Homo sapiens: one gene and its partners. The protein of the gene in region 3 interacts with the protein of the main gene of each other region in a pairwise test. Each region holds a gene or a part of one and is shown on either strand. Other genes may lie near its edges.

Region 1 (8,904 bases), on a different chromosome or scaffold from region 3:
AACCCTGTCTATACTAAAAATACACAAAAATTAGCCGGGGGTGGTGGCGCATGTCTGTAGTCCCAGCTACTCAGGAGGCTGCGGCAGGAGAATTGCTTAAACCCAGGAGGCGGAGGTTGCAGTGAGCTGATATCGTGCCACTGCATTCCAGCCTGGGCGACAGAGCAAGACTCCATCTCAAAAAAATAAACAGGCTGGGCCCGGTGGCTCACGCCCATAATCCCAGCAGTTTGGGGGGCTGAGGTGGGCAGATCACTTGAGGTCAGGAGTTTGAGACCAGCCTGGCCAACATGGTGAAACCCCATGTCTACTAAAAATACAAAAAAATTAGCCAGGTGTGGTTCCTGTAATCCTAGCTACTCAGGTGGCTGAGGCAGGAGAATTGCTTTAGCCCAGGGCACGGAGGTTACAGTGAGCCAAGATCACGCCACTGCACTCCAGCCTGGGCGACAGAGTAAGACTCTATCTCAAAAAAAATAAATAAATAAATTTTTTTTTGTAGAGATAGGTTCATCCTATGTTCCCCAAGTTGGTCTCAAACTCCTAGGCTCCAGCAATCCTCCTGAAGCCCTGGGATTACAGGTATGAGTCACCACATCCGGCCAGTTTCCTCATTTTTAGGTGGGGCTGGTAATAGTGCCTACCTTGGGGGGTCAGCTACAAAGATTCTGGGGCTCTGCTACTCCTTGGCTGTGTGACCTAAGACAAGTTACTCAGCCTCTCTGTGCCTCATCTTTTTCACCTGTGGAATGGAGCGAATCATCGCAGCTGGTGTGAAGATTAACAATTTGTATATAGGAGTTGGCACAGGGCCAGTCTGGGGTAAGAACTCAAACATCAGCCATTGTTGGCGTTGTGCAAAAGTACTTGGAACACCGCTGGCCTAAAGGAAGGTTTTCCTGGCCAGGTGTGGTGGCTCACGCCTGTAATCCCAGCACTTTGGGAGGCCGAGGCAGGCAGATCACGAGGTCAGGAGATCAAGACCATTCTGGCTAACACGGTGAAACCCCGTCTCTACTAAAAATACAAAAATTAGCTGGGCATGGCGGTACGTGCCTATAGTCCCAGCTACTCCGGAGGCTGAGGCAGGAGAATTGTATGAACCTGGGAGGCGGAAGTTGTAGTGAGCCGAGATTGTGCCACTGCACTCCAGCCGGGGAGAAAGAGCATGACTCCGTCTCAAAAAAACAAAAACAACAACAGCAGCAACAAAAGCAAGAAAGGTTTTCCTTAGTTAACACTTTCTTCTTCTTTCAATCTTTATCTCATTTAAGTCTCACCTCAATGCTGTGTGATGAGTGTGATCATCCCCATTTTACTAGACGAGGAGACAGAGGCTCAGCCAGAGATCATTGTTCCCCCGGTTTACATGGAACAGAAATGGCAGGGCCAGGATTTAAACCTAGATCTGCCTGGCTCCCCGCCCGGCTCCATCCCCTGCCCTCCCCCAACACACATAGTATTTACCGGGTGCTACCCTGTTCTAAGCCTTTTCTGGGGGATTATACAGTAATCCTCACCACAGCCTTAAAGTAGGGTACCCTGTGAGTCTCGTTTGACAGACTAGAAATCTGAGGTCCAGAGAGGTTACTTCTTGGCTCAGAGGGTCACACAGCTAGCAAATGACCCAGCTGAGATTTGTCCCTGCTGGCCTGGCTCCAGTCCCTGCACTGCCTGTGGTAAGCGTGTAGCAGATCCAGATCCAATGTCCAGCGTCGTGAGGCCAAAAAAATGGGGGGCAGGGGGAAGGCTCTGCTGCCCCTCGATCCTGTGCTGTTGAAATAGCTGGAGCTAGCACTTTGGAAGGCCGAGGCGGGTAGATCACCTGAGGTCAGGAGTTCGAGACCAGCCTGGCCAACATGGCGAAACCCTGTCTATACTAAAAATATAAAAATTACCTGGGCGTGATGGTGCACACCTGTAATCCCAGCTACTCTGGAGGCTGAGGCAGGAGAATCATTTGAACCCGGGAGATGGAGGTTTCAGTGAGCCGAGATCATGCCATTGCACTCCAGCCTGGGCAACAGAGACACTGTCTTTTTTTTTTTTTTTTTAGGGGATGGAGTTTTGCTCTTGTTGCCCAGGCTGGAGTGCAATGACGCCATCTTGGCTCACTGCAACCTCCGCCTCCCTGGTTCAAGTGATTCTCCTGTCTTAGCCTCCTGACAAGCTGGAATTACAGGCCCATGCCACCAAGCCCGGCTAATTTTTGTAATTTTAGTAGAGACACGGTTTCATCATATTGGTCAGGCTGGTCTCGCCCTCCTGATCTCAGGTGATCCGCCCTCCTGATCTCAGGTGATCCGCCCTCCTAGGCCTCCCAAAGTGCTGGGATTATAGGCATGAGCCACCACTCCCAGTGAGATGCTGTCTTAATTAAAAAAAGGAAGAAAGAAAGAAATAGCTGGAGCTTGGCACAGTGGCTCATGCCTGTAATCCCAGGACTTTGGGAGGCCAAGGCAGGAGGATCGCTTGAGGTCAGGAGTTCAAAACCAGCCTGGGCAATATAGGGAGACCCCCATCTTTACAAAAAACAACAAAAAGTAGCTGGGTATGGTGGTGCATTTGTAGTCCCAGCTACCTGGGACTTGGGAGGCTGAGGAGGGAGCATTGCTTAAACCCGGGAAATCAAGGCTGCAGTGAGTTACGACTGCCACTGCACTCCAGCCTGGGTGACAGAGTGACACCTGTCTTTTAAAAAAGCTAGAGTAGGCCGGGCATGGTGGCTGACGCCTATAATCCCAGCACTCTGGGAGGCCGAAGTGGGTGGATCACCTGAGGTCAAGAGTTCAAGACCAGCCTGGCCAACATGGGAAACTCCATTTCTACAAAAATATAAAAATTAGCAAGGCATGATGGTGGGTGCCTGTAATCCCAGCTGCTTGGGAGGCTGGGGCGGGAGAATCGCTTGAACCTGGGAAGCGGAGGTTACACAATGAGCCAAGATCGTGCCACTGCACTCCAGCCTGGGCAACAGAGCAAGACTGTCTTAAAAAAAAAAAAATGCTGGAGTAGTTAGGATATGAGTTTGAATTTTTATTTCCATGATTCAATCAGCACCTATTCTCCCAAATGCCTTCTCTGCGTTGGGCCTGTGCTAGGTGGCACTGGGGACACAGTGGAGACTGACATGGCCCCTGGCCGCCTCCTCCCTTCTTGGGGCTCATAGTCTAATATGGGACTGACCTGTCTCCCCACACTGATGACCCAGAGTTGGCAGGGCTGGATGTGGGAGCCCAAGAGCCTGGAAACCTGGGAAATAAGAAAGGGCTTCCTGGAGGAGGAAGCATCAGCACTGGGGCTCAGACAACAGGGAAGTAGAGGGCACGTTGGCTGCAATTCGGAGGGAGCGCGGAGCTGTGCCGAGTCTGGAGTTTGGTCCACGGACCAGCAGCGCCCTCTGCTGGAAGCATTTCATAGTGTAGTGACCGGGGTACCGCGCGCATTGAGCCATGTATGTATGTATGCATTTATTTATTTTTGAGATGGAGTTTCGCTCTTGTTGCCCAGGCAGGAGTGTAATGGTGTGATCTCGGCTCACTGCAACCTCTGCCTCTGGGGTTCAAGCGATTCGCCTGCCTCAGCCTCCCAAGTAGCTGGGATTACAGGCGTGCGCTACCACACCCGGCTAATTTTGTATTTTTAGTAGAGATAGGGTTTCACCATGTTGGCCAGGCTGGTCTCGAACTCCTGACCTCAAGTGATCCAGCCCCCTCGGCCTCCCAAAGTGCTGGGATTACAGGTGTGAGCCACTGCGCCGTCCTCAAGTTATATTAGAATCGTGTCCTCCCAGCTTTGGCCAGCTTACTATTCTAGGACTTGATTCCTTCATTCAGTCACAATTTATTGAGCACCGACTTTGCATCAAGCTCTTGCTGAAGATAACAGTGCTGACAATATACAGCCCTGCCCTCAGAGCTTATATAGTAGAGGAGAAAAAGTGAACCCATAATATACAGTCAGTAGCGAGTATTTACTAAGTACTTTCTATTTGCGAGGCCCTGATAAAAGTACTGTCCTGGCCAGGCGCGGTGGCTCACGCCTGTAATTCCAGCACTTTGGGAGGTCGAGGTGGGCAGATCACCTAAGGTCAGGAGTTCGAGATCAGCCTGGCTAACATGGGGAAACCCCGTCTCTACTAAAAATGGAAAAATTAGCTGGGCATGGTGGCGGGCGCCTGTAATCCCAGCTACTCGGGAGGCTGAGACAGGAGAATGACTTGAACCCAGGAGTTGCAGTGAGCCAAGATAAGATAGCGCCATTGTACTCCAGCCTGGGTAACACAGCGAGACTGTGTCTCAAAAAAAAAAAAAAAAAAAAAAAAGTACTGTCCCTGTATTAGTTAACATTCAATTCTCAAAGCCTTAGACTATTTATATTTTATTGACTAGGGAAACTGAGGCACAGAGAGGTTAAGTTACTTGCCCAAGGCCTGCACAGCAAGTAAGTGCCGGAATCAAATTTGAACCCTGAGCCCAATTCTTAGATATCACATTCCCTTGCCAATAACATAATATATAACATAACATAATGATGTGATATATGTTATATAAAATAACTTTAGGGGCCGGGGGCGGTGGCTCACTCCTGTAATCCCAGAACTTTGGGAGGCCGAGGCGGGAGGATCACTTGAGGTCAGGAGTTTGAGACCAGCCTGGCCGACATGGCGAAACCCCGTCTCTACTAGAAATATAAAAAGTAGCCGGGCGTGGTGGCAGACACTTGTAGTCGCAGCTACTCGGGAGACTGAGATGGGAGAATCGCTTGAACTTGGGAGGTGGAGGTTGCAGTGAGCCGAGATCGCGCTACTGCACTCCAGCCTGGGTGACGGAGCGAGACTCCCTCTCAATAAATAAATAAGGTAATTTTAGGCCCTGAAAAGTTTTGTGAACAAAATCAAGAGGAGTATGTAATGTTTTGGTGGAAGGGTGCCATTTAGAAGGGGGCAATCAGGGAAGGCCTGCCGGAGGAGGTGGCCTTTGAGAAGAGACCTAAAGACGATGAGATCTGTGGGAAGAGAGATCGAAGCAGGCCACACAACCAAGGAAAAGGCTCTGGGGCAGGCACTGCAAGAAAGCCACCTGTCTGGGATCTAAAGTTTCCAAAGTTTTAGCTTGGCCAAGGCCCCTGCGCTACAATCACCCTGATTCGAGGTGTCCTGGAGGTTACCAGTTCCGCGTGCGAAGTTCTGCCATTCCCGCGGGGCTGGAGCCCCGAGGCTGAACTTCCCACGGGCGGTGGGCGTGGCCGGCTCACCTGCGGGGGCGTGGCTCCCGGCTGCCCCGCCCCTCGGAGGAGCCGCCCGAGGTCCCAGACGCCCGGCGCAGCGGGAGCGGCGGGGCGTGCCTGGCCTGCGGGACGCGACTGATCGCAGTGGGGCGAAGCGGGGCCGGAGCCGCCCGCGGTCAGGTGGGTGCCGGGAGTGGGGCGCGGGACTCTCGGAGAGCCGCGATGATGGGGGGCGGGGGCAACCCTGGGCCCGCTCGCCCTGAGACGGGGAAGGGCCTTGGGGCTCCCGGATGCCCCCTGCCCCGTCCTGGGGCTCTCCGGGATCTGGAGGCCTGGCTGGGGTCCCATGCCCCCCACCCCAGCGCAGGTAAACAGCGAGGACGGGGCGGGGCCTGGGAGGGAGAGGGAGGGGGCCCTTGTGACTGCGGGTGAGCCTGGTGCGCGGGGCTGGGCAGGCCAGGGTAAGTTGGTGCGGCTTGCGGGGCTGGGCCACGATGGGAGTCTCCTGCCTGCCTGTGTTTGTGTGTGTGTGTGTGTGTGTGTGTGTGGCTTTGCGTGTGTGTAAGAGAGTGTGTCAGGCTGTGGGTATGAGGGTGAAAGCGACTGTCCGTGTAACCCTGTGATGGGACTGTGTGTATGATGTGACACTTTTAGCAATGTGAAAACGTGGGCGACCTCTGACTGGAATGGTGTGTGTGTAGAATTGGATTGCTGGTAGCACTTTACGACCAAGAGCTAGTGCGACTGTAGTCGACTTTCTGCTTGGCCTGATGTGCATGTGTGTGGCTGTGTGTGTGGCTGTCTTCATGGCAGAGAGTGGAACTGGTTGTAGGATTAGGTGTGATTGACCAAGAGGCTGTGCGGCTGTGGTTGTCTTTCTGCCTGTTGGTGTGTGTGTGTGTGTGTGTGTGTGCGCGCGCGCGTGTGGTGGACAGTGTGGCACTGGATCAGTGATAGGTGACTATGATTGACTTTTGATTGTGTGTCACTGTGATGGTGCATGGGGCTGGGCGGAACTGTGTCCAGAAGTGGAGCTGTTTCATGGGACGGTGCGCGTGGAACCTTGGGGTTGGATGAGTGAGGTGTGGAGGTGTGTGAAGCCGTGTGTGCGTGTGTGTGTGTGTGTGTGTGTGTGTAGAGAGGAACTAGAGGGTGTGTGATCTGCATTGATACCGTGGCTGGCAGTGGTGTGCAACGGAGAGTTTGTGGGAGATGGGAGTGGAGACGTGGACATTTAAGTGGGATGCTCCTCCAAGCGGGTGACAGGATGGAAAAGGGGGTCCGCGTCAGGGATCAGTGTGTGGGACTGTGCCTATGATTATCAGCTGTGCGGTTGTGCACCCGGGGCTCTGTGTGAGTGTGGGAGCTGCTGTGTGTCTGGGACACAGCCCGAGTGCTGGATGGCTGTGGTTGAGCCGTGTTTGTTGCTGTGGTTGTCAATCTGGCTGTGGAGTGGTGTGTGTAAGGCTGTGTCTGAGGTTATAGAGGGAGGTTTTACATCGGCAAAATTGTGTGAAGAATGGTTGTGGTTGTCAGGATGACTCTTGAACCTGTGTGGTTGTGAGTTCAACCATTTATGATGTTTGTGTGTGAGGTGTGAGAATAGGTATGGTGTGATATACACAAGCACACAGATTGGCCGGGTGCAGTGGCTCATACCTGTAATCTCAACACTTTGGGAGGCTGAGGCGGCGGGGATTGCTTGAACCCAGGAATCCTAGACTAGCCTGGGCAATATGGTGATACCCCGTCTCTACAAAAACAAAAATTAGCTGGGCATAGTTTAGTTTTTTAAAAATTAAAAAAAGGTTGGCTGGGCGCGGTAGCTCACGCCTGTAATCCCAGCACTTTGGGAGGCCAAGGGGGGAGCGGGTGGATCATTTGAGGTCAGGAGTTTGAGACCAGCCCGGCCAACATGGTGAAACCCCGTCTGTACTAAAAATACAAAAATTAGCCAGGTGTGGTGGCGGGCACCTGTAATTCCAGCTACTTGGGAGGGTGAGGGAGGAGAATCGCTTGAACCTGGGGAGGTGGAGATCGCAGTGAGCCAACATCATGCCATTGCACTCCAGTCTGGGCAACAGAGCGAGACTCAGTCTCAAAAAAATAAAATTAAATTTTTTAAAGGTTGATATATACATCACATATATACACATACATATATCTAGAGAGAGGGAGAGATCAATGACGATCAAGTCTGTGGTGCACAAAACGTACAGGACCCTTACTGTATGTGATCGTGCATGTACAACATGTGCAAAAACCGCTGGGCTGCTTATGGTGGATGCAGTGGCTTGAGTGAAGTGTGCGAGAACGTGGCATCCCTCCACGCGTATTCACAGCTCTCTGTTCCGACAGTGGAGCTGAATCTGAGTACTTGTGTGTGCATGGCGTGTAGGTGTGGGAGTCCCTGCTGGCCAGGCCTGGAGTGGGAGGGAGAGGAAGTAGGGAAACTGGCGAGGGATCCATAGTGAATCTTGGGAGTGTGTGCATCTGGAGGTGCGTTGGGCACATTGTGGGGAGTTGGCTGCTTGGGAGCCATGTGAGTTCGGGGGACAGCGAGTGTCACGGTCAAGTGCAAGGAGATGGTCTGAATGTGAGTGATTTGGGGAGTGGGAGAGACAGAGTTAGTTTCTGCGTGGGTTGGCTTTTCTTTCTTTTTTTTAAATAATATTATCACTTTTTGACACGGAGTTTTGCTCTTGTCACCCAGGCTGGAGTGTGGTGGCGTGATCTTGGCTCACTGCAACCTCCGCCTCTCAGGTTCAAGCAATTCTCATGCCTCAGCCTCATGAGTAGCTGGGGACTACAGGCGCATACCACCATGCCTGGCTAATTTTGTATTTTTAGTAGAGCCGGGGTTTCACCATGTTGGCCAGGCCAGTCTCAAACTCCTGACCTCAACTGATCCACCCACCTCGGCCTCCCAAAGTGCTGGGATTACAGGCGTGAGCCACCGCGCCCAGGCTTGGTTTTTATTTCTAAGAGAATATACCTGTGTGTTGGGAGTGTATACAGATTGTTTTTGAAAGAATAGTATATGTGTGTGCCTGAGTCAGTGTGTTGTCTTAGGTTGTATTTCTAAAAGGAAAATGTAAATGTTTTTACTGAGTTGTATATTTAATAGGAGAAAGTGAGTGCGTGTTCTAAGAGGAGAATGTATATTATGCTGTCCTTTCTTTCTTTCTTTTTTGACTGGGTCTTACTCTTTCACCCAGGCTGAGTGCAGTGGCACTATCATGGCTCACTGCAGCTTCAACCTCCTGGGTTCAAGCAATCCTTCTACCTCAGCCTCCAGGTACACCATCACCACACCCAGCTAATTTTTTTATTTTTATTTTTGTAGGGATGGGGTCTCACTATGTTTCCCAGGCTGGTCTTGAACTCCTGGGCTCAAGTGATCCTCCTGCCTCAGCCAAAATCCCAAAGTGCTCGGAGTACAGGTGTGAGCCACCGCACCCGGCCTACATTGTGTTTCTAATGAGGGAGTGTGTGTGTGTGTGTGTGTGTGTAACTGTATTTCTGGGAGGGTGTGTGTGTGTACCGTCTTTTTTTTTTTTTTTTTTAAATGAAGTCTCACTCTGTTGCCCAGGCTGGATTGCAGTGGTGCGACCTTGGCTCACTGCAACCTCCGCCTCCCGGGTTCAAGCAATTCTCCTGCCTCAGCCTCCCAAG
Region 2 (4,614 bases), on a different chromosome or scaffold from region 3:
CTGAAAGCTTGGCAGACTGCCTCAATTTTTCCTAAGTAGGCGTCAATGAAGTCAGGTCCAGGCCTTGGTGTGTCTGGAATGCTTCAAGCACATTCGAACACTTGATCGTAAGGGAGAGCCGGTACTTTGGAACCGGAACTCACCCGAGGCTGTGGCCACCGCATGGGCAGGCTAGCTGGGGGACAAGCCCCATATCTTTGGGAACAAGGGTTTGCACAGCCACCCTGGGATGCCCTGGGACTCCTGACCGCACAGGACCCCAGCAGGGAGGCCGCCTGGATTGGAGGGTCTGGTCTAACAGCCGGACTTGGTCTTGAACCGTCGCCCTGTCCCGCACAGGCGCCTGCTGAGCCTGGAGCCCTGGCAGAGGCGGGTCTGGGGAGTGGAGCTGCCAGGAGGCCTCCCATTTCTCACAGCCTTGGTGTTCTCCGGGTCACCCAGAGGACCGTCAAATGCTGGATTTGACAAACTATGTAGAATGTTCTTTGTGTCTTTAAGATCTTCTTGTGGTCCTATTTGGACATTTTGTGCATTTTCAGACACCTGCGGGTCACGTGGGTGGATGGGAAGCTGGGCACCTGGTGAGGGGTGAGGATGTTGAGAGCCAGAGCTGCGTTTTGTCTCTGTTGATGTGGCGAGGCCCTGGGTTGGTCACTGGGATTTTTTTTTTTTTTTGAGACGGTGTCTCGCTCTGTCGCCCAGGCTGGAGTGCAGTGGCATGATCTCGGCTCACTGCAACATCTGCCTCCCGGGTTCAAGCGATTCTCCTGCCTCAGTCTCCTGAGTAGCTGGGATTACAGGCGTCACCACACCTGGCTAATTTTTGTATTTTTAGTAGAGACAGGGTTTCACCATGTTGGTCAGGCTGGTCTTGAACTGATCTCAGGTGATCCGCCCGTCTCGGCCTCCCAAAGTGCTGGGATTACAGGCGTGAGCCACCGCGCCCGGCCGGTCGTTGGGATTTTAACAGCCCTGAGGCCCCTCACGCTGCCAGGTGCCAGCCCACCCTGCAGCCCTGCTCCCCTGCCCACACGCAGAAGCCACCAGAGGCTTCTGGACTGAGCCCCCACTGTCCTGCAGCCGGGCTGGCCTGTCCACACCACAGGGCGTGCTCAGCTACTGAGCAGAAGCGTCACGGACAGGGCAGATCAGGCCAGGACAAAGCTCTTCCGCCACAGGCGGGGGTCTGAAGGCATCTCAGAGGGCCCCCAAACAAGGGACGCTGCCTGGAAACCCCGGGACAAGATGACCTCGGTTCAGATCTTAGCACCTTCTGGCAACCTTAGAGAAAGCTTCTGGAGGGAGGGGCTGGTTCCCAGGATGGGCAGAAGCCGGAAAGTCTCAGACTGAGTGACCCTCGGGGGCTTCAGAAGGCACTGGGTGGGCTCTGCCAGAGTGAGAAGGCAGCTGATGGCTGCTGGAGCCAGCCCCGGGAGTGGGGGTCCAGCTATGGTCTGGAGAGGGGGACTTGAGGGTTGCAGTGGCCACACAGACGGGGCACAGGAGCCAAAGGAAGGGACACAGCAAAGCCCAAGGGTAAAACGGCGCGCCGTGGACTGGTCTGAGGGCAGAGGCTGTAGGGGAGCGAGGGGCGGTGTGGCTGACAGGTGGACACAGGGACACGTGTCCTGTGGACTTGGCCGCTCAGTGGGGGTGTGTCCCCCAGCAGTGGCGTGTGAGGGATGGTCACTCTGATGGGACACTGACCACTTGGCCTCCAGCAAGATCTAGGCCCAAGTCTAGGCTGAAGCCGCCCACTCAGCCCCGGGACATCGTCCCCGGCAGCTCTGCTGAGCACGCCAGCTCCGGCACTCTCCGGGAGTCATGGCCGGAAGTCAACTGTCCTGGCTTCCAGGGCCACACCTTGGCCAGGCCTGGTGATGGTCATTTCCAGCCGCTCCAGTTGGGCTGATGGGGCCACATGAGGCCGGGGATAGAAGGTGGCTGCGCTCAGACACCCCTCCCGGCCCCACTGGATGCCCAGGGCGCTGACCTGCAGGACTCGGATGGGTTTTCTCCTGCCACCCCTGCCTGGCCGGCCACCATCCCAGCGCCAGCGCCCTCCTGAGAGGTGCAGGGGCCGCGTGGGGCCTCCCAGAGTGGCAGGTTGGCAGCCTGCACGCCGGTGACGGCGTCCTTCTCCGTGGTGAGGCTTGGTCCCTCCTCGCCAGAAACACCAATTCTCTGACGTGAGCTGCACATCCACTGCCCAGCCATGTTTACTCTTCTGCCTCCTGTAGACGCAGCCGCGGCGGCTCTCCCTGGCAGGCCACCCGCCGTCCTGCCTTTTCTCCGGGTCAGGCCGCCTGTCTGCCGGGCTCCACGATGAGCGCGTTCTCAAGCTGAGCAGGCGCCAGAATCCCATAGAGAGGCTTGTTGAGACACAGCTTCCCCACCCCCAGCTCGGACGCAGGGGCCTGGCGTGGCCTCCTCACGGGCACGGTGTGGAAACACCACTGGCGGTTACCGTGGTCTGCCGGGTGCATGAGCCCCTGGGGTGGCCCCGTCCCTTGTTTCTGACCAGCCGGATCCTCTCCAGCGGCAGGAGCAGAGAGGGCCCGGAGGTCCAGACGGTGCTCTCTGCGGCCAGCATGCCGCGGAGGTGGCCGAGTGAGTGTGGCCCCTCCCTTGCAGGCTGACCCAGCTGGATGTTGACAGCCACCTGGCCCAGTGCTTGGCCGAAAGCACAGAAGACGTGACGTGGTGAGCGCCATCCAAGAGCCCTGCGCAGAGTGCGGCGCCCGGACACGCTCTCCCCCGCCAGCAGCCCCGCCTCTCGGCTCCCCCGCCAGCAGCCCCGCCTCTCGGCTCCCCCGCATGCGCATTAAAGCAGGGCGGGCTCCTGTCTGTCTCTGTGTTGTGATGAAACGTCTGCCGCTTTTCTTTCTGACGTTTGGTTTAGGGCAGATTCACTGCAGTGCAATCAGAACCAGACACAGCCCCAGGCGGGGAAGCTGACCCCTTTCCCCTGGCGCCCCCACTGTGGACAGCGGACGGGCTGAGGGTAGCTCGTTTTCCTAACTTTGTGGACAGGCGTGGTTAGCTCATGTGCAGTCACGGTTTTTTTTTTGTTTTTTTTTTTTTGAGACAGGGTCTCGCTCTGTCGCCCAGGCTGGAGTGCAGTGGTGCAATCACGGCTCATTGCAGCCTCAGACTCCTGGGCTTGATGATCCTCCCACCTCAGCCTCCTGAATAGCTGGGACTACAGGCGCGCGTCACCACACCCAGCGACTTTTAGTATTTTTTGTACAGATGGAGGGGTCTTGCCATGTTGCCCAGGCTGGTCTCGAACTCCTAGGCCCAAGCGATCCTCCCGCCTTGGCTTCCTGAAGTGCTGGGATTACAGGCGTGAGCCAGCAGCCCCAGCCTCTGGTGGCGTTCTTTTTGTTTTTTTTTTTTTTTTTCTTTTTTGAGACGGAGTCTCGCTCTGTCGCCCAGGCTGGAGTGCAGTGGCGCGATTTCGGCTCACTGCAAGCTCCGCCTCCCGGGTTCACGCCATTCTCCTGCCTCAGCCTCCCGAGTAGCTGGGACTACAGGCGCCCGCCACCACGCCCGGCTAATTTTTTGTGTTTTCAGTAGAAACGGGGTTTCACCGTGTTAGCCAGGATGGTCTTGATCTCCTGACCTCGTGATCCGCCCGCCTCGGCCTCCCGAAGTGCTGGGATTACAGGCGTGAGCCACCGCGCTCCACCATCGGTGGTGTTTTAATTCCCCAAAATGAACTTGCAGCTGCAGCTAGTTATGAAAAGGAAAGGCTCCTGCCACCGTGTGCTGCGGGCCTGTAACTCCCCAATCCCTAGGTTGAAATCCTCACCACAAGGCAAGAACTCTGCCAGGACAGGAGGTCGGGGCGGCGCCTCTCGATGGGATTAGTGCCCCATAATGGAGACCCTGGGGAGTTCCCTTGCTCCTTCTACCGTGGGGGACACAGGCCAGAAGAGGGCCGTCCTCTGGAGCCGAGAGAGTCTGGTTGAAGCCCCAGGTCTGTGGTCGTTTGTTAGGGCTGCGGGAGCTGAGACTCTCCGGGGGCTCCAGGGCCTCATCATTCGCCAGGGGTTTTGAGGCAGCTTCTCCTGAAATCCGGAGTTTCTGGGGAAGGACAGCAGCAGTGGGCATCTGGTTCACCCAGATCCGTCAGCCACCGTCTGCCTGGGCTCACAGTGTGAGTGGAGCACAGAAAGCAGCGTCTTCAGGGAGCTTCCTGTCCACTGCTGTTCAGCCCCCAGGTTCTGGAGAGCCGGGCTTTGCGGGCTCAGCTCTGACCCCCGTTTGTGGTGGCTGAGGGAACAGATCTGGGGGCAGACGTGGTGTGAACACCCAGACGTCTGTATTTTCCTTTCAATCATGGCCTCAGATAGGCCGCAAAAAACACGGAGCCATAAATGCAGATCACTAAGGGAAAGAAAATGCTACACACTGTGATTCCAACCCTAGGGGGTTCTGGAAAAGGCAACACCGTGAGGACCAAAAACATCAAGAGAGTGCAGGGGCTAGGAAGGCACAGGCGGAGCACAGGAGGTCTCCGGGGCATGGGCTCCTCTGCATGGCCCCACAGTGGTGAATCCACACTGTCACGTGCCTGTCCACACCCACGGGACTGACGGTGCCCTGGGC
Region 3 (8,891 bases):
TAATGAACATACCTCACAGTGGTTAGGGGCACTGAACATCTGTGTTCCCCTAAAATTCCTTTGTTGAAGCTGTAATCCCCAATGTGATCTATATGGAGATGGGGCCTTTGGGATGCTATTAGGCTTAGATGGGATCATGAGAGTAGAGCTCCATAATGGAATTAGTATCCTTAGAAGAAGAGGAAGAGAAGCCACTGTTTGCTCCCACTCCTCCATGGGAGGAAACAGCCAGAATTTGACAATCTTTGAGCCAGAAAGAGGGCCCTTGCCCCGAACCGAATCAGTCAGCACCTTATTCTTGGACCTGCCAGCGTCCAGAACTGTGCAATATAAATGTCTGTGGTATATTGTTATAGCCGACAAAGCTAAGACAACGGAGAGCTGACATTGACATTCTGTAACAAATAAAAGCAATCCAAACACTTATTGTGTTTTGAAAAACAAAGATATGAATTGGAAAAACTCCCATCACATGAGGAAACCAAAATTCCCATCGATGGGAATTGTCCCTATCCATTAAATCATAATGAATAATATACTTATTGATACATGTCATTTAAAGCCTTGTCACTCTATTCTTATAGAAATATTTGTCTAAACACTAGTCCAACACTTATTTCCAGTGTAGCTTTTGTAATGAAAGGAGTAACATTTTACTCCATGGTGCAACTCATGTGCACGAGGGAGGCTGGATCACTGATCTGCAAGAAAACTCAATTTATTGGCTGATTTTACTTACAAGTTGCTGCTGTGTCAGACCCTGAGGACAGGTTGCAAAGCCAGGAAACAGCTGAGTTGAGCTGGGATCTAACGTCTTCCGAACCACAGTTCTGACGTTTACAGCCAGCTGTAACATTATTCTGAATGAGGCCCAGTACTGTTTAGATAGATGCACAAAGGAAAGCAAAGTATTCAGATTTGGTGTGAATTGCCTTAGAACCAGATCCTTTCTCAGGTTGCTGGAATGGTTCAGGATGTTACCCTTTTCTGATTCAATTAATTGCTGTGGTATTTATTGAGAACCTACCGTGTGCCCAGCACTGTTCTAGATGCTGAAGGCCCAGCAGATGGAAAAAGCAACCACGAACAAAAGCTCTGCAGTCATGAAGCTGACATACAAGTGGGAAGAGACCGACAATAAATACTCTGATAAGCATATGAATAAGTAAGAATTTCCGTCTAGCAGTTAGTGACAGAAAGAAAAGTAAGCAGGTGTTTGTGATAAGAGGTTTTTGAGGGCAGTGACCACGGACAGATGGTTTTCAATATTTTCAGTCGGAGTCAGTTTCCCTGATTTGAGAGTGAAACATGCAGGTCACTAGAAGCCAAGAAGGCGAATCACATGGTTATATCTTTGCTGGAATCTGGCACTGAATGATTGCTTCATGGATACTTGTGAAGGTGTGCATTTTGTTCATGGGAGACAGTTAAAATGTGAGAAGGTTTAATGGGGTGCATGGCATCCTTGTTCAGAATTGCTGTTAATCTACTTTGTGTCCAGCCCTTGTATATGCCAAGCACTGGGCTAAGGGCCTTGGGACACACACGTCATTTAATGCTCACAAAGAATCCTATGAAAGAAGTCCCAGTAGCGTCGTGTCCATTCAACAGCCAAGTCAGGGACACAAACAGGAAAGAGGGGGCGCACAGCTGCTCTGTGGCCCAGTGGAATTCATCCCCTGGCATTCAGGTCCAGCAGCCATTTCTTATCTGATGTGTTCCGGGCCTCTGGAGGCACCTCCTACCACAAAGATCATTCACAGTGTTTCCAGCAGGTTGGTATAGAAGAGCCCCTTCTTTGTTCTGCAGTATTCTCTCAGCAGGGACCTGTCTTCCTGGTGCTGGAATCTACCTGTAGCTTCTCTGCCAACAGAGTTTGAACCCTGCAGAGGAGGCTGAGTCTGACTTAGTGAAGTTTGCCAGAGAAGGCTATTTCTTACCTCTTTCTAAGGCGATTTCTTAGCACCAATCTCTTGCTGCAGCATCCGTTATTAGCTCTATTTGTGCCAGCAGGGACACATGAAAGGGTTTTGGGCATGTTTTCATATGTCTGAGTGGCTGCTGTCTCTTCGGTTCTTTCTGCTTTCTTCTGTGCCATGATGGAAACTAAAACATTTGACCCAGTGATGTTTTTTTTCAATCATTCTTTAGAGGTGGTGAGACTACAGGTATGTTTTCAAAGGATTGATAGTTTTTGCTGATGGATGGCATGGAGTGTGTAAAGAAAATGGAGAAAACTAAGGGTTATGGCAGGGATATGATGTTAACCCACTGTGTGAACTGAGCTGACATCGTGTGAGATGGAGAAGATTTATGGAGGTGAAGGGGTTGAAGGAAGCTCAGGACATATGAAATTTTGGACACCTTACCCTTGAGTCGTCTATGGGATAATCACGTGTGTAACTCAGTATACATATGGAATTGGGAGTACGTGCACTTAGATGCCATGGGGCTGGTGTGTGGATAGAGAGGCCATTCAGGGTCTGAGTCCTGGAGCACTCTTGTGCAATCCTGATAGGAGGAACTTCTCACAAAAGAGGCTGAGAAGGAGTCTTTCTAGGAGAGAGTGGTCACACAGAAGACCAAAGAACTTATTTCAAGAAATGGGGAGTCCTCACCTGCGTCAAACACTGAGAGGTTGAGTGATGAGAGCTTAGCATATTGACCACTGGATTTGGAGACCTGGAGGTTTCCTGTCATCTTAAGAGCAAATTAGGGGCATGATGTGGGTAAAAGCCTAATGCCAGAGGAATAAGGAGAGAATGGGAGCTCAGGAAGTGAGCAGAGGTGATTCTTGAAATAGCATTTGCTGTGGGGGACAGGATGCAGAAGAATGGGACTGAAGGGGAAATGAGGCCAAGGAAGCTTATTTATCTATGTACATTTTTAAGATGGGAGTTATTTGTGAAGTTTTTAAGATGGGTGATTCTTGTGTATGTTTGTATGTTATTCCTTTGCAGGCAAAGATTAAAAAAAAAAAAGATTGTTGATGCAGGATGAAGAGAGGCAACAGCAATAGAAGCAACATCCTCAGAGAAAATGTGTCAAGAGAATGGTTCCATGTGCTCAGTGGAGTTTCAGCCCTGGCCAGGGGCTGCGATGTCCTTCCATTGTTACAAAAGAGAAGGAAGAGAAAGCCAGGATGGGTGCCAGGAGTTTCACAGAGGGGCTCCTGTTTCATGGCCTGTGTTTTCTCAGAGAAATAAGAGGAAATGTGTGCTTACCTGTGTGTCCTAATTTTTCATTGATAATCATAGAATATTGGAGTAATCAAAATTTACAAGAGCAGTTGCTGTGGGTTGAATTTTGCCCTGAAAGAGATATGCTCAGGTTCTGAGCTCCAGTACCTGTGAATGTGACTTTATTTTGAATAGGGTCTTTGCAAAAAAAAAAAAAAAAAAATCAAGTTAAGATGAGGTCCTACAGGATTGGGATTAGTCATATACCCTTAATCCAGTGAGTGGTGTCCTTATAAGAAGAGGTGTATTGGACACACAGACAGATGGAGAAGAGCACCATGATATGAAGGAGGAAGAGATTGGAGTGATGCATCTACAACCGAAGGAAGCCAACCGATGACTACTGGCAACCTACGGAATCTTGGAATAAACTCTCCCTCAGAGCTTGCCAGAAAGAACCAACCTCACGGAAACCTTGATTTCAGACTCATAGCCTGCAGAACTGCAGAAGAATAAATTTCTGTTGTTTAAAGCCACGCAGTCGTAGTAATGTGTTGTGGCCTCCCTAGGAAATTAACACAGTTGTGTTACATTTTGAGACATAGATAGCCCTCAACCGATCCTGTTAACCAGATGATAATCTTCAGCAATGCTCTTACCTGTTCTCACAGTAGGAGAGGAAAGACAAACAGGTTTCATCCACAGTGCCCATGGATTGCATCAGAATCATCCAAACTGTTCTCCTTGCTTCCTGCTCTGACCTCTTCCAGCCTGTTCACAACCAAGCACCTGGAGTGATCCCTGGAGGCTCCAAATCCTTCAGGGACTTTACGTGTCATGGACAATAAAAGCCAAAGGACTTCCAGTGCCCCACTATCCCACATGCAGCCTGAACCTCTATTATCTCTCTTACCATACTTCCCACTCTTCTAGCTATTCACTGCCTCTGCTCTAATCACTGCTTTTCTTTGAATACATCACGCACAGTCTTGCTGTATGGTCTTTGCACAAACTGTGCCCTCCGTCTGAACGGCTCCTCCAAAAATAGCTGCCTGGCTAACTCCAACATCTTTCTCAACTATTGCTTTCCAATGAGGGCTACTCTGACCATGCTATTGTAAAGTGCAATCCAATACCCCATGCCCAGCACTGTGGATCTCCCTTGTCCTGCTATATTTTTCCATGGCATTTATTGCCTTCTAACATACCATATATTTTATTATGTGATGTTTAGTGTCACCCTTTCGTCATCCTGTGAAAAATCTACCCTCACAGGGTGAAGATTCTTGACTCTTTCATTCATTAACAAATTTTAGGAACACAGAACAGTGTCTGGTTCACAGTTAGTGCCCTACAAGTTTTGCTGAATGAATGAATAAGGGTAATGTGTATATCAGAGTAATGTAAGCATAACCAGGTAAGCGATGAGTACATGGTAGCAATGATCATAAAAGGATTCTATTATAAATTATCACTGGACTAAAAATGGCAGTCCTAGTACACAAGACACGTACTTGCCATCACTAAAACATTGCCTACCCACATGATGCCCTCTCTCCACAAAATTGATCCCTGGTGAGGAGTAACTATTGACCGCCCACTGAGTGGTGACTCCTTATGCTAAGCACCACGAATACAAGGGCAGGAGCAGGATTTTTGGTTGCACAGCCGGTGTTTCAGGCACCCATCCTCCCAGGGAACCCAAGAGAAGAGCCCTGTATCTCCTTAGTAAATGCAGAACCCAAGCTCCCAAGCCATTTTCCCCAGGCCATCCTAATGGCTCCCTCAGCCTTGATGGGAGAAGCCACGATGTTCCCACCCATCGCCTTTTAGTAGCCACAAGAACCTGCCCGCCCACCCACTGCACGCCCATTGGTTGGACAGTGGTAGAGGCGGGCCCTGACGAGCGCATGCTCAGAGGGAGAAGTCAGCGGAGAAGCTGGGAGCTCCTTTGGAGGCTGCGGTGTCCCTGACTCTCCTGAGGGGGGCTCACTAACGGGTGGGTCCCATGCCACAGTGTCTGAGGAGAAGCAGGAAGTGAGTCCCTGAGGAGACGCCGTGACCTGAGGGCTTCCCTTACTGAGGAGGCCTCGTGCTTCATCTGCCACAAGCGGTGCCCAGGCCGGTGGTGACAACTGGGACGATGCTCAGGCTTCTGAGACTTGCTTTGGCCTTCTACGGGAGGACGGCCGACCCTGCAGAGCGACAGGGCCCACAGCAGCAGGGCCTCCCACAAGGTATTCCTCTGTGTGTCCCCTTGTCCCCCACCCCAGAAGCCTCCCAATAGGGGTTCTCCTCACCCCCGGAATGAGGCTGTTGTAACTCGGGTGGGTACTGCACGTGACGGTGGCTCCATCTTGTGCGTGCATGGGGAGGCAACCCGAGGCAACCCGAGTCCTCAACAATTCCCTGAGAACCAACCCCCAAACTCTCCTGTCCATCTAAAGCGGGAAGGTGTTGACAGAGAAGACCTTGGGGTCTGTACCGCCTGTGCTTTTCCCCCACGTGGTCGCACAGCACATGCCTATTTATATTTCCAGTAGGCGAGAAACTCCCTAATTTGCGAGTTAATTTAGGCTTGTATCCCAAACGGGAATGTAATTTGAAGCCAAGTTGATGCCTCATACTTATCTGATCCCAAAGGAAGGCAGAGAACCCCTGCCGGCGACTGCTGAGGTTTGATCCCTAAGTATTGCTGATCAGCTAGGCTTGTGCAGAATAAAAAAAAAAGAAGAAGAAGAAGAAGGAGAAATAAAGAAAACCATTCAGATGCCGTTTTGGGCTAGCCTTCAATCTCCAGATATCTTTTAGTACTTTGTCTGCTGAGATGGTTAAGTATCTATAGAAGGTGCTACTCATCATGTTGGTGATAATGATGAAGGAATATAATAGGAGCAGAAGCTTAAAGACTCATATGTAGAAATGCTAACAGGTAACATTTACACACTCTTGTGCAAGGCACTCAGAGCTCTCGACAGTTGATGTGCATGTGTCAGTTAATATTCGTAAGCTGGGCGCGGTGGCTCACACCTGTAATCCCAGCTCTTTGGGAGTTCCAGGTAGGTGGATCACTTGAGGCCAGGAGCTGGAGACCAGCCTGGGCAACATGGCAAAACCCCGTCTCTATTAACAATTCAAAAATTAGCTGGGTGTGACGGTACACACCTGTAGTCCCAGCTACTGGGGAGGCTGAGACATGAGAACCACCTGAACCCAGGAGGCAGAGGTTGCCGCTAGCCCAGATTGCGCCACTGCACTCCAGCCCCGGCGACAGAGCCAGACTCTGCTCAAAAAATTAAAAAATAATTAAAAATTAAAATTTTTAAATTTTAATAAATTTTTAAAAATATTTTAAAAACCTACAACAACCCTATTAGGCGAAATTGTGATTGTTGTGGATTGACAGATGAAAACAAGGTCAGAGACGTTATAAAACTTCTCTGCCCAGGGTTATGCAGATGGTGAGTGTAAGACTTACTTGTAGTAGGTGTTTGCATTTGAGGCTAATAATGTGACCTTGTTTCTTTATCTTGTAGGTGACACCCAGTTGACAACTGTGCAGGGAGTTGTCACAAGTTTCTGTGGTGATTATGGCATGATTGATGAGTCGATCTACTTCAGTAGTGATGTTGTGACTGGCAACGTGCCTCTAAAAGTTGGACAAAAAGTTAATGTGGTTGTGGAAGAAGATAAACCACATTATGGATTGAGAGCAATCAAGGTGAGATGTGCATGAGTTTGGGAATTGTGTCTTATCCCAGTGGGCTTTCTTTCTCCATCTTTCTTTTCTTGAGTTAATCCGACATCTCTGCTGTGATCCGTAGAGTGGATGTAGACTGCAATTTGAAGCCCCCCTCCTCTGAAGCTGTAGCTTCTTCTGTTGTAATATTTGTAGTAATTTGTGCTGTAAAACATAAAAGCTTACTTATCTATTATTCTAGTCTTTAAACAATATGAGTAACAATAATAATTATTGAACTCTTTATAATCTTACAACTTCCCTTATCAGGTAAAAAAACATTTTCTGTAGTGTGCATTCAAAACAGTGGAATTTCTATGTCAAGCCATGTGCATTGTAAATATTTTAAAAAGAGCTTCATGGAATTATAATTCACCAACCACAAAACTCTCTTAAGGGTACAATTCAATAACATTTGCAGATTTACGGAGTCCTGGCAACATCACCTGAGCCCAGATATTTGCCCATTCAGTGGCTATTATGAAATTATTCTTTAGCTCTATTGTACTAATTGATTCTCTCAGCAATAGGAGGTGAGACTGCCCATCTGCCCATATAGGCAAGGACAACAATACTATCGATCTGAAATCTTTGCACATATGAGAAAGGAAAAGCAGTCTCATCATTCATTTGGAATTATTAAGGGTCTTCATGAGATTACAGTAAGTTTTATTTCTTAGACCTACTGATACAATAGGGATATTTATGGCTATCTCTATGGTAGGAAAATTAGATTTGTAATAGGAAAGTTTGTGTATGAAGCCCTTGTAGTATTTCGTCTGATACCATCTTTTTCCTTTGCTTTATGTCTTTCATTCTTTTACAGCATTATTGAGATATAAGTCACGTGACTATACAATTGGCCCACTTAGAGGGAACAATCTAGTGGTTTTTAATTTGTTCACAGAGTTATGCAATCATCACCACAATCAACTTTAGAACATTTTCATTACTCAAAAGGAAGCTCTTCGTGCTCCCCCAACTGTCCCCTCCCCCAACAACATCCAGCTCCAGGAAATCACTTATCCACTTTCTGTTTGTATATATTCTGGACAGTTAAAAAAGGTTCCTTCTATACAACTGTAATTATATGTTCTTTCACCAACATCTTCTCATTCCTCTGTCCACCCTAACAACACAAGCGTCTGGTAACCACCATTCTACTCTACACTGCTATGAGATCAACTTTTTTATCTTCTGCATGTGAATGTGACCGTGCAGTATTTGTCTTTGTGTGACTGGCTTATCTCACTTACATATCATTCTCCAGGTTCATCCAGGTTATTTCAAACGGCAATATTCTGTTCTGTTTTATGGCTGAATAGCATTCCCTTGTGTATTTATACCACATTTCCTTTATACACTCATCCGTAGATGGACACTTAGATTGCTTTCATTTCATAGCTATTGTGAATAGGGCTGCAACAAACATGGAAGTGCTGACATCTCTTTGACACACTGATGACACTCTCTTTGGATACATGCTCAGTAGTGGGATTCATGGATAGTGTGATAGTTCCATTGTTAAAATATTGGGGAATGTCCATACTGTTTTCCATGGTGGCTGTAACAATTTACATCCCACCAACCGTGCATAAAGCTTCCAATTTCTCCACATCCTTGCCAACACTTGTTATATCTTGTCTTTTTAATGTTAGCCATTCTAACATGCGTGACTCGGTATCTCTGTGGTTCCGATATGCATTACCCTGATGATTAGAGAAGGTGAGTGTTTTTTCACATGCCTGTTAGCCATTTGTATGTCTCCTTTTGAGAAATGTCTATTCAGGTCTTTTGCTCATTTTTAATAGGATTATTTGTTTTCTTGCTATTGTGTTGTTGGAGTTACATTTTGGAAACTGACCCCTTACTAGATACATAGATTGTCAATGTTTTCTCCTATCGCATAGATTGTCTCTCCACTCTTTGATTGTTTCCTCTGTGGTGCAGAAGCTTTTTAGTTCAATGTAATC
Region 4 (8,918 bases), on a different chromosome or scaffold from region 3:
TTTTCTATGAATTTGACTACTTCAGATATTTCATATAAGGGAAAGCATACAGTATTCATCTTTTTGTGACTGCTTTATTCAACTTAACATAATGTCCTCAAGATTCATCCATGTTGTAGCATGTGACAGGATGTTTTTCCTTTTTAAGGCTGAATAATATTCCATTACATGTATATATAATATTTTATTTATCCATTTATCTGTTGATGGACATTTGGGTTGCGTCCATCTCTTGGTTGTTGTGAATAGCACAGCTATGAGCATGAGTGTACAAGTACATCTTTGAGCCCCTGCTTTCAATACTTTTCGGTATATACACCTGCATCCATTTTTAACCTACACAAAGAATATCTGCTCTTGAAGACTGACACTTTGCCATCAATCTATAAGAAAGTAAATTCTTTGGAAATATGATAAGACAAAATAATTGTATTAATTTGCCTTTCAAATATAAACTAAGGTAGATTTTTCAAAGCGTCTCGATTTTCTTCATATATAGTTATAATAAAAGAAAATCCATTGTCATACCTTGATGCCAATTATACATATATAGAAAATATTCATAAATATATATACACAGAGAAATATGCACATACACAGACACAACCTGAAAATAGTCTACTTCAGAATAAAGTGCACTTCCATTTTTCAAATTGCAAAAATTGACTTTATATTTTCTAATTATCTTTTTTTAAAGGTCTTTTTAAATTTTTTTTCCTGGCTTTTAAAAGTAATCACAGAAAGAGTAGGAAGAGATTAAGGCTGCTAAACTCAGCCATACAAGGAGGAAGGAGAATCACATGTGCTGATCTTTCTCATACTACTAACTAAAAGTTTATGTAGTGCAATTAAGAGTTTTGAACCATTATTTTATAAGTAGAGTTAAACATCAGAGGTATATTCATAAATGAGTGGCACATGTCACATATTTAAATTCTTTCAGGATCTCAGAATGACAGAACCTGGGGCTTCTCCATCAAGTCCTGCTCCCTTATTTCACAATTGGAGAAACGTGTCCAATGAGACTAAATGGCCTGTCTAATTTACATAGCTTGTCATCCCCGAGGCTGGAACAGGAACTCCTATCATTTCATTACTTCAACATTTTTTATATCTACCTATCTAATCTTCTCTTAAATGAATGTAGCAAAATACAGTAGATATTCTGACTGCATTCATAAGGAAATTACTCTTTTGGCTTTTATTTCTTTTCTTTGTAATAGACGTATGCAATGCAATGACTTCCCCTCATCTCATGGTAGGATTTGAACTTCCCTGCCCTCAAGGGCCCAAAACCTGATTAGGGGTTGCTGTTGATTCTTGCCCTGGATTTCAAAAGCCTGAAAATTTGTTATAGAAGAAAAAAGTAATAGGTTCTAGAGTACAGAGACAAATATGAAGATTGCAGGAGGGATTCCTCAGACTCATATAAGCACTGAGTGGAAGTTGAATAAGAAGTGTTTCCAGAGGGTAACTTAGGAATTTGAGAACTGGCCATAAGAGGTGTCCAAATGGAAGAAGACCCATTTCCCAGAAAAGAGGAGACAAATGGCAATGCAAAGAACATTGTTCTGGTGTCCAAGCATAAACACTGACCCTGTAGCCTGCACCCAAGGGAGGAAAGTTCACTGTCCTCCTCTAGGGCCTACATACTGCTTTGGTGTGTATCATGTTGACTGTTAATAATCCAGCAGAGTAATCACTATCCATTCTCCAAGGCTGCGTTTGGTCTGTGTTTGAGGAGCTCATGTATTCCCCTACCCCTACTGCCAATGCCATCTCAGTCCATCTCACAATGCCCCACGTGACCCATCTGCTCTAAAAAGAGAATGAGACCATGCACATCTAGTAGTAAGGTAAAGTAGAGGAATGACCCATATCTGTATCTGGAAAGACTGGACTGAAAAAGATTAAGGTCCCCAGAACTGAGGCAATGATTATGTTAAAGTTTATAATCTCATTTATAAAAAGTATAGTTTTGCTGTTTTGTAAGAATTCAGGACCTTTAAGTTTGTTTCTAGTTTTTCTTTCATGAATGGACAGGGGGAATGCATAAAAGAAATCATTTTATTTATCTATGACAAAATGTTAAATTACCTAAAGCTGAAGCTGAAGCATTTTGTGCAATGTGTATATATTGTTTATATATATATGTGTGTGTGTGTGTGTGTGTGTGTGTGTGTGTGTGTTTCTCTCTCTCTGAATGATGCAACAGATGAAAACTAACCAATAGAGAGGATATGGTTTGATGCTTAAGAATGAGCCAAACAACAAACGGGAAACTGTGTACTGTCTGCGTGACAAATGCAACTTCATTTAACTGTTATCATTTGAAAATACCAAGTATACTAATCTTGTTCATTGTTTTTGTTTCTTTTTTGAGACAGAGTCTTGCTCTGTCACCCAGGCTGGAGTTCAGTGGTGAGATCTTGGCTCACTGCAACCTCTGCCTCGGGGTTCAATCAATTATTGTGTCTCAGCCACCGGAGTAGCTGGGATTACAGGCATGCGCCATGATGCTCGGCTAAGTTTTTTTGTATTTTTAGTACAGATGGGGTTTCGCCATGTTGGCCAGGCTGGTCTTAAACTCCTGGCCTGAAGTGAACCGCCTGCCTTGGCCTCCCAAAGTGCTGGGATTACAGTAAGCCACTGCACCCAGGCAAAATATACTAATCTTAATGGCTGAACTTTCAATTGCTTTTCTGTTTTGAAAACTAAGTGTGGCCTAAAGCATTTCTCAACACACTGAAGAACAGTAAACTAAACTCCGACTTTGCCATTTATATCGTTAGATCCTAATTGATATTGAAACCCTGCAAAACAGGAGAACTTTTTCTTTTTCTTTTATTTTGTTTACTTGCTTTTTTAAGTTTAGAACTGAAGTTACCAAAAGGAGGTGCATATAGATTGGCAGAAAGCAAATGAGTAGCAACAAAAAATAATTAGGAGCTATATAAAGAGTAAAAGAATGTATGAATAGGAATCTTCCAGTGATAATATTCCCCCACCTTCAATAGGGCAAAAGATCCACCACAAAAGCAAATAGTCATCTTGAAACTTAATTACATTTCAAAGTAGTACAGTAACATGAAAGGAACAAAACATTTTTGTTCAACAGTTTGCCTACCAGATGGGATCTCTAAATATAGGTAATCTAAAACCTTTGCTTGTCCTATAAACAAATACAGATGAAAGGAATAGCAACAATAGCTAAGCATTTAAATCACTGGAAATAAAATAGCACTTTGGTTAAGTGTGGAAGAATCTGGCTCATTCTAATAATGAATCTGGGAAGGCTGGAGTTCTCAGTGAAATTCAGAATACAGAAGGTTGCTTCTGGTATTTACCACCTGCTTATCTACCTGTTTAAACTGGTAGAATAGTTGGAAGAACAAATCAGGAACTAATAGCAGTAGACTTGGGAAAAACTAAAGAAGCACAGGAACACCTAATAAATAGAGACTCTAAAGGGCCACAATACAAATTCCAGACTTTTGTTTTTGAAATAAGAGTTGCGACATGCCCTTGCTTCATTTCTGTGCACTCATGTGTAAATGTGGGTAATAGTTAAGAACCTATGCTCTGGAGTCAAGCCCAGCATGTGAATCCAGGTTCTACAATTGACTGGCACTATGACTTTGAGCCAGGTTCCTTACCTCTTTGAGCCTCATTGACAAAAGCAGATAGTAATAGTACTGAGTTTTATTGGAATTAATTTATGACAGTTTTTGGCACCTACTGAATCCCATGAATATTAGTTGCTTATTATTATTAATAATCATTACTCTTAAATAATTATATTCTGATTTTTTGCTGTCTCAAAAGCGTGGGGTGGTGTACAGTAAGATTTTCAGGTAGTAAATGGAGTTCTAAGAGTAGAACTTAAAGCCTTCCCTGTATATCTCCAAGTGGTCTTTCCTAGTAGCACTGCCCTCTTCTCACCTGGCTAGGGAAGGTTATCTAGAACTCATACGGGGAAGGCAGGTCAAAAGACAGAGGTTTTTCTTTTAAGAATTGGCTATCAGAGCTCAGCCTACCCTAGTTTGTCCTCCTCAGGGACTTCACTTATACAACTCTCTGCTGCAGATCTATGGGCTTTGGAGAAATGACTCAGAATTTCTTTTTGATTTGGTTAACTAATGGCATGTAGGACCATTCTTGTTGATGGTATTGTTATTAATATAACACCATGATAGCTTAGAGCTGATTTTGGCAACTAATGTTGATAGTAAACAGTTTACTTACCTGTAAGTAGGGTGATTACCTGGAACAAATAAAAGGTAAGTTGTAATTGCTAAAATGTAATGCAGACTACAATGAATGGAAGGCCAGTGTTTAATGGTACTTAAGCTTTTACTGGGTTATTTTGTTGAATTTTACATGAGGCAAGAGCAACCTGCTGGGGCCACTGCCTTCAGTATTAAAAGATACCTATGTTTTGGACTTTATACAGGAAATAATTCCATTTCTTAGTATTTTTAAAATTATGGTAAAATACACATAAAATTTACTAGGTGTATAGTTCACTGGCAGTTATTAACACTGTTGTACAACCATCATCACTGTCCATTTTTAAAAATGTTTCACTATCTAAGCAGAAACTCTTGTACTCATTAAACAACAACCTCCCAACTCCCTCTTCCCTTAGTCCCTGGTAACCTCTAATTTCACTTTCTGTCCCTATGCATTTGCCAATTCTAGATATCTCATGTAAGTGGAATCATACAATTATTTGTCCTTTTGTGTCTGGCTTCACTCGGCATAATGTTTTCAAGGTTCATCCATGTTGTAGCATGTATCCGAATCACATTCTTTTTACAGGCTGAATAATATTCCATTCCAATATGTACATAGCACATTTGGTTTATCTCTCCATCTGTAGATGAACATTTGAGTTGTTTCCACTTTTTGGTACTTGTGAATAATGCTGCTACAGAACACTGAAGTACAAGTATTTGTTTGAGTCCCTGCTTTCATCTCTTTTGGGTATATACCTAGAAGTGGAACTGCTAGTACCTATGCTAAGTCAATGTTTAACTTGTTGAGGAGCCACCAAATTATTTCTATTGCCGCAACATCATTTTACATTCTGATCAGCTATGCACAAGGTTTCTAATTTCTACACATCTTTACTAATACTTATTTTCTGTTTTTTTGATAAGAGCCATTCTAATGGGTATATAAAGCAGAATCTCATTAAATTAGATTTGCTTTGTAAACTATTTATTAAAAATAAGAGACACGAAGAGAACTTATTATTATATGCTTCGCTTACCCTGTATATCAAGAGCTGCAAACATCCTGTGCGAGTCCCAAAGTGAAAGGTAAAATATGGTTCTATTAAATTTTAAACATAGTAACACGAATATTTCTCCAAATAAGGTAATCTTGAGTTTTGGGATTGCATTTAAAATTCCTACAGCAAATGCTCAGGATATAAACATATCCATTAGTCATTACAGAAGTCCACACGAGGCTGACACACGTAGAATACCATTATTAGCAAAACTAAACTCAGTACAGTTACAACTGCCTCAAACTTGACCCCAAAGTATTGAAAGCTCCTCAGAGAGCGGGCCAGCAGCGCTGCGCATGCGCGCTCCCGGGCGTGCTCCCGCGCGTGCCTGCGTATTTGCGTGCGCGGCCCCGCGCGGCAACGCAGGGGCGGAACCGCATGACTGGCAGTGGCATCAGCGATGGCGGCTGCGTCGGGGTCGGTTCTGCAGCGCTGTATCGTGTCGCCGGCAGGGAGGCATAGCGCCTCTCTGATCTTCCTGCATGGCTCAGGTGGATTTCAATTTTACGTCCTGGTTTTCTACAGCTCGGGAAACATCCTCCCCTCGGTTACCCCAGTATTGCCCAAGTGGAGGTGTCGCCGGGCCCAAATAGGGCCCAGTGGGTGGCTCCCCCGTCGCCAGCCCCGGCTGTAGATGCACGGGCAGCGCCACCTGCCCCCAGCCTCCCCCGTTAGTCTTCCTCTTTCTATCGGGCGGTCACTGGTCCACCACCCTCGCTTTGGGGCCTTGTGTCCCGCCGCTCAGCCAGCCCTCCATCCCCACAACACACCTCCCCATTCCTCGCCCCAAGTTTAAACAGAGCAAGTTAGTAAGGTAAGTCTTCTGCTAGAGGGAAATTATTTAGTGTTTTTCATTATCAGCTACTAGTGATTTTTCAGTCGTAATTGCCCATTGCTTTTTCCAGGCTCCCATACTAATGTAGACAATTGAGATTCACAGTTAACTTAGATACTGTTTACAGATTATCTCTTTTCTGTAAGCCACTGTGCCATGGCTGGAGTGCTTTCTCTCACTTTCCTTTTTGCTGCTTCTCTTTCCTTCCTTTCCCTTTCCCGCCTGTGTCATTAAACTTCCAAGATAGACTACAGGGGCAGGACCCCCAGGGACAGGCATCTTCCACTACCTGCCCTTAGTAACGTGTGCTTAATGCTGTATCGTTACTTAACACTCATCTGTAATCACTTTTGTCTGTCTTCCCCACTGGATTGTGAACTTCCCACTGGATTATGAGAGTAAGGGCCCTTGTGTCAACCTTTGCACCCCCAGTGCTTGGCCCAGGGTAAGCTCTCAGGAAATGTTTTTTAAAGAAATGAGATGCAGCCGGTGTCCTCAGGGGGCCTACCTAAAGTTAAAAACAAAAACAATCCAATTAGTTTGAGTCAGCAGTGCATGGAAGATCACAAGACGGTGCATGGTTTCCTGCCAAGTGAATTGTAAGAGAAAAAAATGTGGTTAGGCATTATTAAGGCATTTGGAAGATGAAAAGCTTGTCAGACTTTTCGAAGAAAGTGGTCTTTGAGCCGAGACGGGTAGGCTTAAATGGGACGGTGATTGGAAGGGAATTGGAAAGGTACTGGGCAGAGACCTGGAAAAGGGCAATTGTGGGAGGTATTCTCTTTATTTTGAAAATGAGGCCAGACAGGTTCAGCAGCTTGGCCAAGGTCTCTTAGCTGTTACTGTGAGTAGTGGCGGATTTGGGATTAGAACCCAAAGCTCTCCGACCTCAAACTCAGGGCTTTGGTGGGGTAAGGTGAAAAAGTTTGAACTAGGATATATTGTTTTGGAGATAGGGAAGAAGAGGTCCAATAGTGTTTAAAGGGAAAGACGGCATATATTTAGAAGGTGACGTGTGTAAGATGACAGCGGTACTTAATAACTAGGAGACTGGTAGTACTATTTAGGGCTCCAAGAGTGTTCATTTATAAGTACCCAGAAATTCCCCAACACTGTACCCTTTCTCATAATCAATTCTCATTATCTTTAGGAAGAACTCCTAGACTATGTTCTTTTTTCCCCTGGACCTCTTTGCTTAAAATAATTATCCTTTTTTTGAATTTCAGATTACATTTTTATAACCTGTAAGGGTATGTCTCTAAAATTCAGAGTCATGTATGTATGTATTTTTTCCTTTGTACTTTGAACCAAGAATTTATTCAAAGAATTCTGCCAAGTATGCGAGTATAATGTGATTCCTATATATTTAAATCTCCACTGAAGTAAATAAAACCTTATTGGGAGTAGGTCTTTATCATCTTTATCGTTGGGAGTAGGTCTTTATCATCCAGTAGGTCTTTAGCAGCTAGTGATTTTACATTCAACTTTAATGTATGTGGTTATGTTATAGGAGATGTTTGGTTTCTGCTTAACTAGAATATGGGCAAACCAATTCTGTTTTATCACACTCAGTTTTGCCATACTGTTAACCAGTTTTAACACTTTTACTATGGAATAAAGTACTAGCTTTTTAAAAAGTGGACATTGGGAATGGATAGATGTTGTTTTGCAGCTGCATTCTTACTCTTCGAGGCTGAAAAAATGTTGTTAAAGACAGATTTTGTGTTTTCAAATAAAAAACCTTAAAAGCTTGAGATTTTCTTCTAGGAGATAGCAGCCATAGAAGAACATATGGGAGTGTAAATTATATGTAGCCAACTTAATTTGAGCCTTTTCTATTAATAAAGTACTAAAGACGGACCTTCTTTTAAGATGATAAAAATAAATGATAGGTTAATGAGTTTTGTTCAGTCTCTCAGATCAGATTAATTCACTCTTATTTGCTCCCATAGGACACTGGTTCTTCTTTCAGTGGTAGTCATCATACTTGTAATTATGTAATGTAATGTCTGTATTCCACACTAAGCTAGTAGGTCCACAAAGCCCAAACCATGTGTCTTGTTTATGGCTTTCTTCTTGTGTGGTAAGGCTCAGCAAGTTGACTGAGTAGCTTCTTGGTAAAGTCACCAGTAAGCTCAGGCTCTATGTCGCTCAATGTAATGGACATTTTCAGTCGTCCTCTTACGTGAACTGTCATCTGCATTCAGCTTTCTTCTCAAAAAACTCTCCTGGTTCTTTTTCTGTCTTGATTTGCTCCTTCTGGTTTCTTTTGCAGACTCATCCTCCTCTACCTGGCCATTAATGATGGGGTTTCTCTAAATTTGGTCCAAGGTCTTTTCACTCTACATTTTTCTCCCTAGGCTAATCACAGAAGTCTCCTAGAGATACCCATTTGTGTCACTGGTGTATAGGTAAAAATAGAACCTTTGAATTTCTGTGGAGATTCATAGATTCTATTTTTGAGCTCTAGACAAGTTCATCTAACTGCCTGATAGACATTCATTCATGAATCCATTCATTCAAGAAATATATCACAGCCTCCATGTGTAAGGCACTGTTCTGTGCTCTGATCATACAGCAATGAAAAAAACAAATCACTGCTCTCATGGAGCTTATGTTCTAATGAAGTAAATAAATACTATAGTAGAAGGTAGTAAGTTTTATGGAAACAAGGAAAGCAGGATAAGGGGATTCTTCCATGGATGAGAAGTTGGAACAGTGTTACAATTTTAAATAAAGTAGTCAGGTTATGCCTCACTGCAAAGATGACAGAAGATGAAACTTCAC

What was found.
Region 1: the proteins of CT55 (region 3) and KLC3 interact in binary tests that used the Homo sapiens proteins (3 or more experiments, as listed by UniProt).
Region 2: the proteins of CT55 (region 3) and FAAP20 interact in binary tests that used the Homo sapiens proteins (3 or more experiments, as listed by UniProt).
Region 4: the proteins of CT55 (region 3) and LYPLAL1 interact in binary tests that used the Homo sapiens proteins (3 or more experiments, as listed by UniProt).

The regions. Positions count from the first base shown.
Region 1 is NC_000019.10:45,335,438-45,344,341, forward strand, and holds the start of KLC3 (kinesin light chain 3), read left to right. Parts: upstream 1-5,312; 5' UTR 5,313-5,409; intron 5,410-8,904. UniProt on the Homo sapiens protein: Kinesin is a microtubule-associated force-producing protein that may play a role in organelle transport. Plays a role during spermiogenesis in the development of the sperm tail midpiece and in the normal function of spermatozoa.
Region 2 is NC_000001.11:2,187,802-2,192,415, reverse strand, and holds the end of FAAP20 (Fanconi anemia core complex-associated protein 20), read left to right. Parts: exon of another isoform or gene 1-2,618; intron 2,619-2,634; coding exon 2,635-2,707; 3' UTR 2,708-2,868; downstream 2,869-4,614. UniProt on the Homo sapiens protein: Component of the Fanconi anemia (FA) complex required to recruit the FA complex to DNA interstrand cross-links (ICLs) and promote ICLs repair.
Region 3 is NC_000023.11:135,167,603-135,176,493, reverse strand, and holds the start of CT55 (cancer/testis antigen 55), read left to right. Parts: upstream 1-5,095; 5' UTR 5,096-5,322; coding exon 5,323-5,416; intron 5,417-6,715; coding exon 6,716-6,900; intron 6,901-8,891. UniProt on the Homo sapiens protein: Plays a role in spermatogenesis, possibly acting in the regulation of the autophagy pathway.
Region 4 is NC_000001.11:219,168,195-219,177,112, forward strand, and holds the start of LYPLAL1 (lysophospholipase-like protein 1), read left to right. Parts: upstream 1-5,683; 5' UTR 5,684-5,696; coding exon 5,697-5,787; exon of another isoform or gene 5,788-6,110; intron 6,111-6,766; exon of another isoform or gene 6,767-6,826; intron 6,827-8,918.